2 separate regions of the Homo sapiens genome follow, and region 1 is linked to region 2. The links come from fine-mapping of genetic effects on gene expression. A gene starts in region 2. The other region holds a variant in brackets. All regions are shown on one strand. Distances are from middle to middle.

Region 1 (5,381 bases), 21 kb after region 2:
TTTGAGATGGAGTCTCGCTCTGTTGCCCAGGCTGGAGTGCAGTGGCGTTACCTCCGCCTCCTGGGTTCAAGTGATTCTCCTGCCTCAGCTTCCCGAGTAGCTGGGACTACAGGTGCGTGCCACCATGCCTGGCTAATTTTTTGTATTTTTAGTAGTGACGGGGTTTCACCATGTTAGTCAGGATGGTCTCGATCTCCTGACCTTGTGATCTGCCTGCCTCGGCCTCCCAAAGTGCTGGGATTACAGGCCGGCCCTGACTGTTGTTTTTAGTATTGCTTCTCCCAAGAGAATCTTACACTAACTACCTATCTCCTCTGTTTTACAACCTTTTTCCTGAATCTCTTGAAATTGATTTGTTCATCGTGGACAAAATTGCCATTCTTCTTATCTTCTTTTTAGTATTAAGTATGTCTTATCAGTTTTTCTTTGAAATTTTCTACTTTGATAATGATGCAAACATTTTACTAAACTGAGAAACTGTCTCCCTTCCCTAATTCAGGTATCAAACCACCATCCTGGCTAGTAAGTCTCTATTCTCTATCCCCCAAACTCTTTCTTCTGCATCCTTGTTTAGATGTTTCTGAAAGTTCTTGACCCTTTGATCGTCTCTATTATCTGTCCTTCAGTGACCTCATGGCTTTTGTCATCACCTTAAAGTGAACCTCTTCTAAATTTTCCTCTAGGCTGAAATCTCCACGTTTCTAACCACCATGGACACCCTCGCCACCTTTTAAAACCTTTGTTGTCTTTCAAGAACTTTCATAAATTCCATGTCTTCCATGAAAACATCTCAAGTATCTACAGGCAGAAGGAATTTCTCCTTCACTAGTGTCCTGTTGCCTACGATTGTAACATTTATGACCCACTTCCTTACTTAGTATCCATTTGTTAACATAAGTGCTTCTCATTTGCTGGTGGCATTTGGGACACTTTTTATTTTATTTTATTTTATTTTATTTTTTGAGATGGAGTCTCGCTCTGTCGACCAGGCTGGAGTGCAGTGGCATGATCTCAGCTCACTGCAACCTCCACCTCCTGGGTTCAAATGATTCTCCTGCCTCAGCCTCCCGAGTAGCTGGGATTACAGGCATGCACCACCATGCCCAGCTAATTTTTGTATTTTCAGTAGAGATGGGGTTTCATCATGTTGGCCAGGCTGGTCTCAAACTCCTGACCTCAGGTGATCCACCTGCCTCGGCCTCCCTAAGTGTTGGGATTACAGGCGTGAGCCACCACACCCGGCGGGACACTTTTTTGTTTTATTTATTTTAATTAGAATAACATGAGGTGTCAAAGTTTTTTTTTTTTTTGCGGAGTCTCGCTCTGTCAGGCTGGAGTACAGGGGTGCAATCTCAGCCTACTGCAACCTCTGTCTCCCGGATTCAAGTGATTCTCCTGCCTCAGCCTCCTGAGTAGCTGGGATTACAGGCCTGTGCCACCATGCCCAGCTAATTTTTTTTGTTTTTAATAGAGTTGGGGTTTCGCCATGTTGGCCAGGCTGGTCTGGAACTCCTGACCTCACGTGACCCTGTGCATCGGCCTCCCAAAGTGCTGGGATTACAGGCGTGAGCCACTGCGTCTGGCCATCAAAGTATTTTTTTTTAAATGAATGAATAAACCTATTATTCTTAGAGGTATCAATTTTTCTTTTCATTTGTTTCTTCCTTTCGAGGTTTCAATGTTTTAAAAGAGGTGGATAAACTGATAGGATGTATCCTGCCTATGGATTGTAAAGGGCTGGTTCCACACTTCGCAAGCTTCCCAAGGTCACTGAATTTAACGACATCTTCTGGAGGGTGGGTGTGGTAGGCATTAAAGTTGGCTGTAAGTTTAGAAATTGAATGCATTCCAAACTACCCTTGAAAAGTCCCTTTCATTGAGCATAAAATACAGTACATGAAGATTTTATCTTGTGTTGGAACTTTCTTCAGTTGAGTACCAGATTAAACAGGGGATCTAGAATCTACTCATTAAGATGAGGTATGCAGACTAAGATATGCATGTGGGAACTGAGACCATCTGGGGAATGGTATATTCTTGCTCTCACAGACTCCACTCTAGTGTCTACACACAGTCACTTGTGTGCAGTAGTTCTCTGTATGTGGTCCAAGGACTCCTAGAGGTCTCTAAGACCTTTTCAGAGGGTCCTCAGAGTCAAAATTATTTTCATAATGGTACTAAGATGCTATTTGCCCTTTTGACATATTTTCTCATGAGTGTACAGTGGAGTTTTCCCAAGGGTACATGATGAATACACAATGATCTAAAAAGGCCATTAAAATACTCTCCCTTTTCAACTACATGTCTCTGTGAGGCAGATTTTCTTTGTATACTTCAAGCAAAACCACTTATTGCAAAGGATTGAGTGCAGAAGCAAACATGAGAATTTAGCCATCTTTAGCCAGACATGAAAGAGATTTGCAAAAACATAAGACAGTGCTCTGTTTATGAACTTTTTTGGAAAATTTTTGTGTTAGCATGTAACAGGTTAAAATGAACTAATAAGTAAATATTTTTAAATGTCTCAGTTTTAATTTCATATGTGGTAAATATTGGTAGACATAATTTAAATAAACAAAATACTTTTTGGAGTACTTGGTAGTTTTTATGATTATGAAAGGATCCTAAGCTCAAGAAGTTTCAGAACTGCTGCTTTTGGAAATAAGATACTCCTGAGGCTGGATGCGGTGGCTCACGCCTGTAATCCCTGCACTTTGGGAGACTGAGGTGGGTGTATCACCTGAGGTCAGGAGTTCAAGACCAGCCTGGCCAACATGGTAAAACCCTGTCTCTACTGAAAATACAAAATTAGCCGGGTGTGGTGGGGCATGCCTGTAATCCCAGCTACTCAAGAGGCTGAGGCAGGAGAATCGCTTGAATCTGGGAGGTTGAGGTTGCAGTGAGCCGAGATCACGCCATTGCACTCTAGCCTGGGCAACAAGAGTGAAACTCTGTCTCAAAAACAAAAAAACAAAAAACAAAAAACCCCCCCAAAAAAATCAAACCTACTGATAGTGGAATGACAGTGAAACTGCCCACACTATTAAAACTGTTTTTCTCTCTGTCTTATTTTTCACCTTCTAGCCTTCTCTCATTCTTTTAGCAAAGCTTTTGAATTTGTCTAAGTTACACACG[T/C]GGTATGAGTGTCCCCCAAATTTTAAGGAGCAAAATCCAGTTGTGTCTTCTTTGTGCTGTGCTATACTGAAAAAAATAAGACAAATAATCTCCATTGTCTATATAAACCTTACTATGAATGTCATAAATAAAATTTAACCTGTAACTTCTTTTTAAAAATGTTTCTATTTTTTATATTATTGGACGTAGACACGGGGTCTCGATATGTTGCCCAGGCTGGCCTTGATCTCCTGGGCTCAATGATTCTCTAGCCATGGCCTCCCAAAGTGCTGGGATTCTAGGCGTGAGCCACCATGCCTGGCCAAACATGTAACTTCTAATAAAGGCTTTATTGTCTGAGAGGTTGGTAAGTTTCCTAAAAGTCAATTATTTAACAGTATATTTTCCCCAGTCATGGTGGTACATATCTGTAGTCCCAGATTCTCAGGGGGCTGAGGCAGGAATATCACTTGATCCTAGGAGTTCAAGGCCACAGTGTGCTGTGATCACGCCTGTGAATAGCCACTGCACTTCAGCCTGGGCAACATAGCAAGACTCTGTATTAAAACAAAAATAAAAGCATAGTTTCATGAGCCACTCCAAAAAAGACTTTATTTTAGGTCATGTAGTTTATTTGCATGTAGTACTAGTAAAGTTTTGGATAATTTAACAAGATATTTGGAGCATAAATGAAGACCATCTGTGTACATAGATAACAAATTTGTGAGCATTTTGGAGCTTGGAAATTGGAGAGAATTGAGTGCATGTAGGTGGAAAATCTAACCAGATTAGAGTGGTTGTACTACAAATAGGCCCAGCATTTGGTTAAATCTCTGTATTTTACTATCGAGGGACAGTTGTAAAGTACACTCATAAAGGAGACTTCCATTTCCTCTTCCCTTTTTATCAGAATGATTTAACAAGATCTGAAATTATAAATGTTTCATTTGCATGTTTTATTCCCCAGGAGACTGGTTAAACCCTGAAGCGTGAGTGACAACTGAGGAAAAGGATGTCTTTCGCTGCTATTTTGAAATTGGGTTTTGGGGCTGAAATAATGAGGGCTTCAACCAATTTGGAAAGAGGAAGGAAGGGGTATGATATCACTTCACTTTTCACCTTTCTGATGCACTTTACTTGGAAGGTTACTGTTGAGTTCCTCTAATCCCCTATTTGGCTCCAGGAAGATTTATAAATGTTTTACTCCTTAACTCTTGAGTTTATATAATCTAGAAATTCATTCTGACGTTCCATTTTTTTTTTTTTTTTGAGAGGGAATTTCTCTCTCATTGCCCAGGCTGGAGTGCAGTGGCACGATCTCAGCCCACTGCAACTTCCACCTCCTGGGTTCAAGCGATTCTCTTGCCTCAGCCTCCTGAGTAGCTGGGATTACAGGCGCCCACGACTGCGCGTGGCTAATTTTTTGTATTTTTAGTAGAGACAGGGTTTCATCATGTTGGCCAGGCTGGTCTCGAACTCCTGACCTCAGGTGATCCACCCACCTCAGCCTCCCAAAGTACAGGGATTCAGGCATGAGCCACTGCACCAGGCCTCATTCCAAGGTTCTAAATGCCTTTGCTTAGCAAAGCACTATGTGAAAATGTTAGTAAAATTTCTCAACTACTCAGGAGAAATGGCGTTTTAGGGAATTGTGAATTATTTAGTTGACATTCAATTTTTAGAGATGTTACCAAAAATAAATTACTACCAGCTAAATAGTGCTCACCTTTTACCACCAAAGTGAGATGAAGGTGTAAGGTTACTTTGTGTTCTCTGCCTCCTGGACAGACTATTTAGTGGAAAATCAGTCAACACACTTTCTGGTAGTGTTGGTGGAACAGGAACTTGGTTTTTAGATATTTTTAGCCTGGATGCTGTTTTTCTGAGACTGCCCCTCTCGGATCAAGTGTCAGGTAGGTATCCTTGCAGAATTTGGACAGATAGAAGGCCCTGAGCTGACACTTGAAAGTGGATGGGCTGGCTTTGCACTGATGGATTCCCTGAGCCAACAGATTGATTGATGGTACATCCTGATGTCCATCTACCTGGCACTTTGAAGGGATTCTTGCTTCAAGGGAGGCACTCTGAAGAAAAAATAACAAATGTTGATCTGGAGTCTGAAAATATTGTCTATTTGACCCATTCTAGTGTTGTGAATTCCAAGATAAATAAAATAATGCTCTCTTTTGAAGTGGATTACAATAAGGTTAAGAGAGAGAGAGAGATGGTCCAGTGAATGCAAGTAAACATTGTTAGTGCTGTGATGT
Region 2 (5,381 bases):
ATATTTTAAAATTTAATTTTCACAGCTACCCTGGGCATAGGTATGTTTGTGCCCAGAATAGTTTTCTTTTTATTTATTTATTTTTTGAGATATGGTCTTACTCTGTTGCCCAGTCTGGAGTGCAGTGGTGCCATCATAGCTCACTGCAGCCCCGACCTCCTGGGCTCAAGCAATCCTCTCACCTCAGCCATCCAAGTAGCTGGCACCACAAGTGTAAGCCACCACGCGTGGCTAATTTTTGTTTTTTTTTTTTGTACAGATGGGGTTTTGCCATGTTGACCAGGCTGGTCTCGAAATCATGAGTTCAAGTGATTCTCCTGCCTCGGCCTCCCTAAATGCTGGGATTACAGGCATGAGCCACCATGCCTGGACAAGAAGTTTTATATACAAGTTTGACAACTGATTAAAGTGCTTGTGAAAGATACAGATTCCTGGGCCCCACCCTATAAATCCTGATACAAGAGATCTGGGTAGGGTGGTTGGAGCCTGGGAATCTGCACTTTTGACAAATGCCTCAGATGTTTCTGATACAGCTTGGGAACCAAAGGCAGCTTGTAAACTAGTACATTCAATGCTTTAAGCACTTCACATTGCCCTTGTATTTCAGGCTCTAAATGCCTTGAAGCTTGATCTGAAAAGAATATATGATCATCCTAACATGTAGGTTTACCAAAGATGGTAAACTAGAAGATGGTAGACTTCTTACAAATCTTGAGTTCCAAATGGCTACTCTTCTTGGTGGGTCTGAAGATTTCTGAGAACTCTCTGACCCAGTCACTGTAAGAGACCTAACAAAGAAATTGTATGGAAGACAGAGATCGAGAAGGATTTACTTGCCTTAGAAGAGCTTTCAGAACCTGTTAACTGTTTACAGATTAACGCTTTAAAGAAGATGGGTTAAGGAGAGGAAAGGAGATTAAATGTGTTTATAGAAGAACAACAAATGCCTAGCACTTAGGGAGGCTGAAGTGGGTGGATTGCTTGAGTTCAGAAGTTCGAGACCAGCCTGGGCAACATGGTGAAACTCCGTATCTACAAAAATTACAAAAATTAGCCAGGTGTAGTGGCTTGCACATGTAGTCCTAGCTACTTGCGGGGGCTGAGGCTGGAGGATTGCTTGAGCCCAGGAGGTGGAGGTTGCAGTGAGCCGACATAGTGCCACTGCACTCCAGCCCGGTGACAGAGCGAGACCCTGGCTCAACAACAACAGCAACAACAACAAAAAGAAAAACAACAAAATGCCAATACACATATGAGAGATTACAATTTTCCAATAAACAAAGAAATGCTTATTAAAACCACATTGAGAAATGAGGGGAAAAAACCTGTAAACTGTCTGCAAATGTGAATTCACCAGGCAAAAATTCATAATAAACTAAATGAGTAGGTGTCCCTAATTTTAAGTCGGTTGTCAGGGATGAATGACTAGCATTGTTAATTACACTTGTAATAATGTGAGCATCATTTTGCCTGTGTGCTTTGTGCCACCTCTGCCAACACCCTGGGATCCACCCCAAATCACTGACCACAACCTTAATCAAGACTGCCTAGGCCGGGCATGGTGGCTCACGCCTGTAATCCTAGCACTCTGGAAGGCTGAGGCATGAAGATCGCTTGAGTCCAGAGTTTGAGACCAGCCTGGGCAACATAGTGAGACCCCATTTCTAAAATAAATAAATAAATAAATAAATAAATAAATAAATAAATAAATAAAATTAGCCAGGCACTGTGGTGTGTGCCTGTAGTCCCAACTACTCTCTGGAGCCTGAAGTGGAAGGATCACTTGAGCCTGGGAGGTCAAGGATGCAGTGAGCCATGATCCTGCCACTGCACTCCAGCCTGGGCAACAGAGCAAGACTCCATCTCTAAAAAAAGAAGAAAGAAAGAAAGAGAGAAAGAAAGAAAGAAAGAAAGAAAGAAAGAAAGAAAGAAAGAAAGAAAGAAAGAGAAGATGCCTATCCAGAGGAATCCACCAAAACAAAACAAAACAAACAAAAAAAATGAAAAAAAAACCAGAAATAACAAAACATTTGTATTGTATGTTACACATGAAGCACATTAAGTGATTTCCTTTGTTCATTGTAACCTTGTGAGGGAACTGGATTTTTGTCCCTATTATTCCCATTGCATAGATAAATAAACTGAGGCTTGACATGCCCAATAAGTCACAGGTAGTAAAAGCAGTGCGTTAGCTTAAATCTCTGATCTCCTCACGCCCCACACTGACTCAACAGTAACAATACATTACTACAAAGGATGTCTGTGATGACAGTGGCCATCCCATTTGATCCTCGTTATTCTTCTTTTATCGAAGGAAACTGAGAGTCACCTTCTTTTCTAGGCAGTTAGGTAACTGAAGCCGAAAGGTATTGTGACAGATCCACTGGGCTGTAAAAGGCAGCGTGTGGAGGTGGAGCCCAGAGTTTCTGCCTCCACAGTTAAAAGCTCAGACAGGGCTTTGGGAGCAGGGCCTGCAAATCAAAGATGAAAGAACAACCTGTCTTGGAGCGCTTGCAGGTAAGCTCAGGCTGCTCGACTGGCGGGGAACAAGGACCTTAGGCGATTCGCTAGATCTGCGCCCCCGGCCTTAGATAGAAGTGGGTGGGGCCAGGGACACTACATCTAACGAGGATCTAGAATAGCTAGGATTTATGAAATACCGGCTTTCAAGTTCTCTGGTCTCCACCCAAAGATGATTATCCTATCTAAGGTAGTGTACGCTACTACAGGGCAGGTCCCGCAGCCCCCGTTTCAAGAGCTGGGATGCGGCCATAGCGGAGGTGGTGTCAGAGCGGAAACCTAGCGGGGGTCGGGGGTTCAGCTCGGGGCGGTGGGAAACACCCCGGGAGAGGAGGCAGCTCTGATTCCGCTCCGGGCCGGAGGGAGAGGAGTTCGGAGGTGGCTTGAGCTGAGAATCCGGAGGAGAGAAGGCGCGTTTTGAGCTGCCACGGGCACAGATCTCAGACCCGGACGCTGACTAGCCGGGGGTCGCGGCTTTCCGAGGCGGCTGGAGAAGTGCCCAGACGGCCGTCCCTCCGCGCCCCTGCGCGTCCCCGTGCGCCCAGTGTTCCCCGTGCAGGAGTCCCGGAGCGATGACAGCGCCGGTTACGGTAAACACCCGCCCCGCCGCAGTCCGCTTCCTTCCCCAACGCGGCGCCGCCCGGACTTGCAACCTCAGGAGTCCCCGCTGGCTCCTCTCCACCGCTGGCATATGGCGCAACAGGAAGTTCTGGGGGCTTGGAGAGGGAGGGTGCTCCTGGCTGTTGGGAGAGCACTGGAGACGCTTGGGAGAGTAGTGGAGATCCTGGTAATTTCTTGGTCTCGCCTATTTTGTCTGGACTTTCTCACACTGTGTATGAAAAATAAGTATAATTGAGCACATTGTATTTCAGGAATAGTCCAGGCAGCTTAGCAAACGTTAGCTCATTTCAGCCTGCTCTGATAAGAACATATGCTCTGGAGCCAGGTAGCCTGAATTAGCATCCCAGCTGCATCACTACCTGTGATTTTGGGCGAGTTAACATCTGTTCTTCGGCTTTCTCATCTGGAAAATGGGATAATACGATTTGTAGTTTCAAGATGAATTGAAATGCTACATGCCATTTGCACTTAGAATAATGCCTGACGTATTTAGCAGGTTGTAAGAGTTTGGGATTCTTAACTATTTCATCCTGGCAGTAATCCTATAAAGTCCAAGTATCCTGTCTCTCCCATCTCCACCGGTTTACAGGTGAGGAAAATGAAACCAAAGGAGAAAAGCAGATTTGAGATTTGAACTCAGGTCAGTGCTTTAAGACACGGAGAACATAAAAAAGAAAAAAAAAAAAGAGAAAAAAAGACACTGAGAACATAGATGTTCTAGTCATACACATCATTTGTGATTATTTGTTCTAGGGAGAAATGATCACCTTTAATTGTTAAAGTGGGAAACGAGTTATTCAATTTCTTTCCCCCTGTATACAGATTTTGATGTTTCACTGTCATCTGCTTTGGGTTCTTACAGGACTGATAAAGCGTTAGCTATTTTGGCCAGACTGGAATCTGGGCTTGACTTTAAGAATCTGGTTGTTTCTTATGTTTCCCACCAGGAGTGGTAACCATCTAGGGTAGGAGTTAGCATGAGTTTTGTTTTTTGGGCCAAAACTGGAGACTAGTACCCTTTGGTAGTGTTAAACTTGTCTTGATAGACAAGGGCATGAATAGCATTTGAGATCATTATACCAGAGGTGAAGGGAAAGAATCGTGCAATATGTTGCAATTTGTCACAAATTTTGGTCTTATCTTGCCTATTTACAATTATCTATCATAGTTAATTTTTTGGATAGGACATCTATGCCAAAACTATCAAGCATTTGGTAAATACTGTGCCTGAAATATGGCTTCTCTCTTTTTCCTTCTTTTTCAAATTTCTCACTTTTTATTTTATTTTATTTTTTTGAGACAGAGTCTCGCTGTGTTGCCCAGACTGGTCTTGAACTCCTGGGCTCAAGCAATCCTCTTTGGCCTCCCAAAGTGCCAAGATTACAGGCCTGAGCCACTGTGCCTGGCCTCACTGTGTTTTAAATCATGAGTTTTCAGTATAAACAGCCCAAATAATCTGAGTGATTTTCATTATACTTCTGGTAGAATCAATACCATGCTGGAACTGAAAGTGACCATCCTACCTATAACTCAGTTATTCCTTTGTGACACATCAGAAGTCTACATGGCAACTATTTTCTGTAAAATCCATCACTGTTAGGTAAGATATTATGATGTGAGTCTCACTAGTGCCTTTTTTCTTTACTTCTTAGTTTTATTGAAGTTTTACGTTCTCATTGTTCAGAATCAATTAATTCCATAGGGTTAATATCTAAAAACAGTAGAACCCTCCATCACTTCCTGCTTTTTAAGAGAAGTAATCATGTTCATCTCTTTTAACTAGTTACTATTTGTCTGTATCTCTAGATATTCCTTATAATTGCTCCTTCTTGGTTTTTGAGGTTTAGTCATCATGCATTGACTTTCCTGCAAGAAATGTGTGGATTTAACTCTTTTCTGTTTTCCTGCCACTACCACTTACATGCATCCTACCTATTCCTTCCATAGATCCTCTGAATATAGTTATCTCATAATTTTTGGTTAGGTCAATATTTAGTTAGGTCAACATTATTATGCCTCCCTACATGCTATTAAAAGCTTTCTTCCTTGTTTTTTTCCAGAGTTGTCTCTCTGTGTTTGCAAAGTTTTCACCAATTTAACCACAAGTTCTTTGTTAGTTGTCTAAATCTTCCCTCAAGATGTCCAATGCAACAGCTATTTGAATCAATTTTATTTCTATCACAGCTTTCTTACCTGCTTTGCCAGTCCAGACTGGTTGCTCTTGATGTTTGATGCACAGC

The links. PIP is the estimated chance that this variant, and not a neighbour inherited with it, causes the effect.
Region 1: its variant is fine-mapped to the expression of TRPM6 in whole blood (INTERVAL, PIP above 0.99).

The regions. Positions count from the first base shown.
Region 1 is chr9:74,864,076-74,869,456 of GRCh38, reverse strand. The region is part of intron 1 of TRPM6 (transient receptor potential cation channel subfamily M member 6); the gene reads left to right. Among named protein-coding and RNA genes, the nearest start is that of TRPM6, 21 kb to the left of the region's middle. The variant T/C (reference allele first, on the strand shown) is at 3,136.
Region 2 is chr9:74,884,960-74,890,340 of GRCh38, reverse strand. TRPM6 (transient receptor potential cation channel subfamily M member 6) reads left to right here and starts at 2,420. Exons shown (of 39, transcript NM_017662.5): 1 at 2,420-2,517. The coding sequence starts at 2,485. RefSeq lists an enhancer at 3,034-3,328.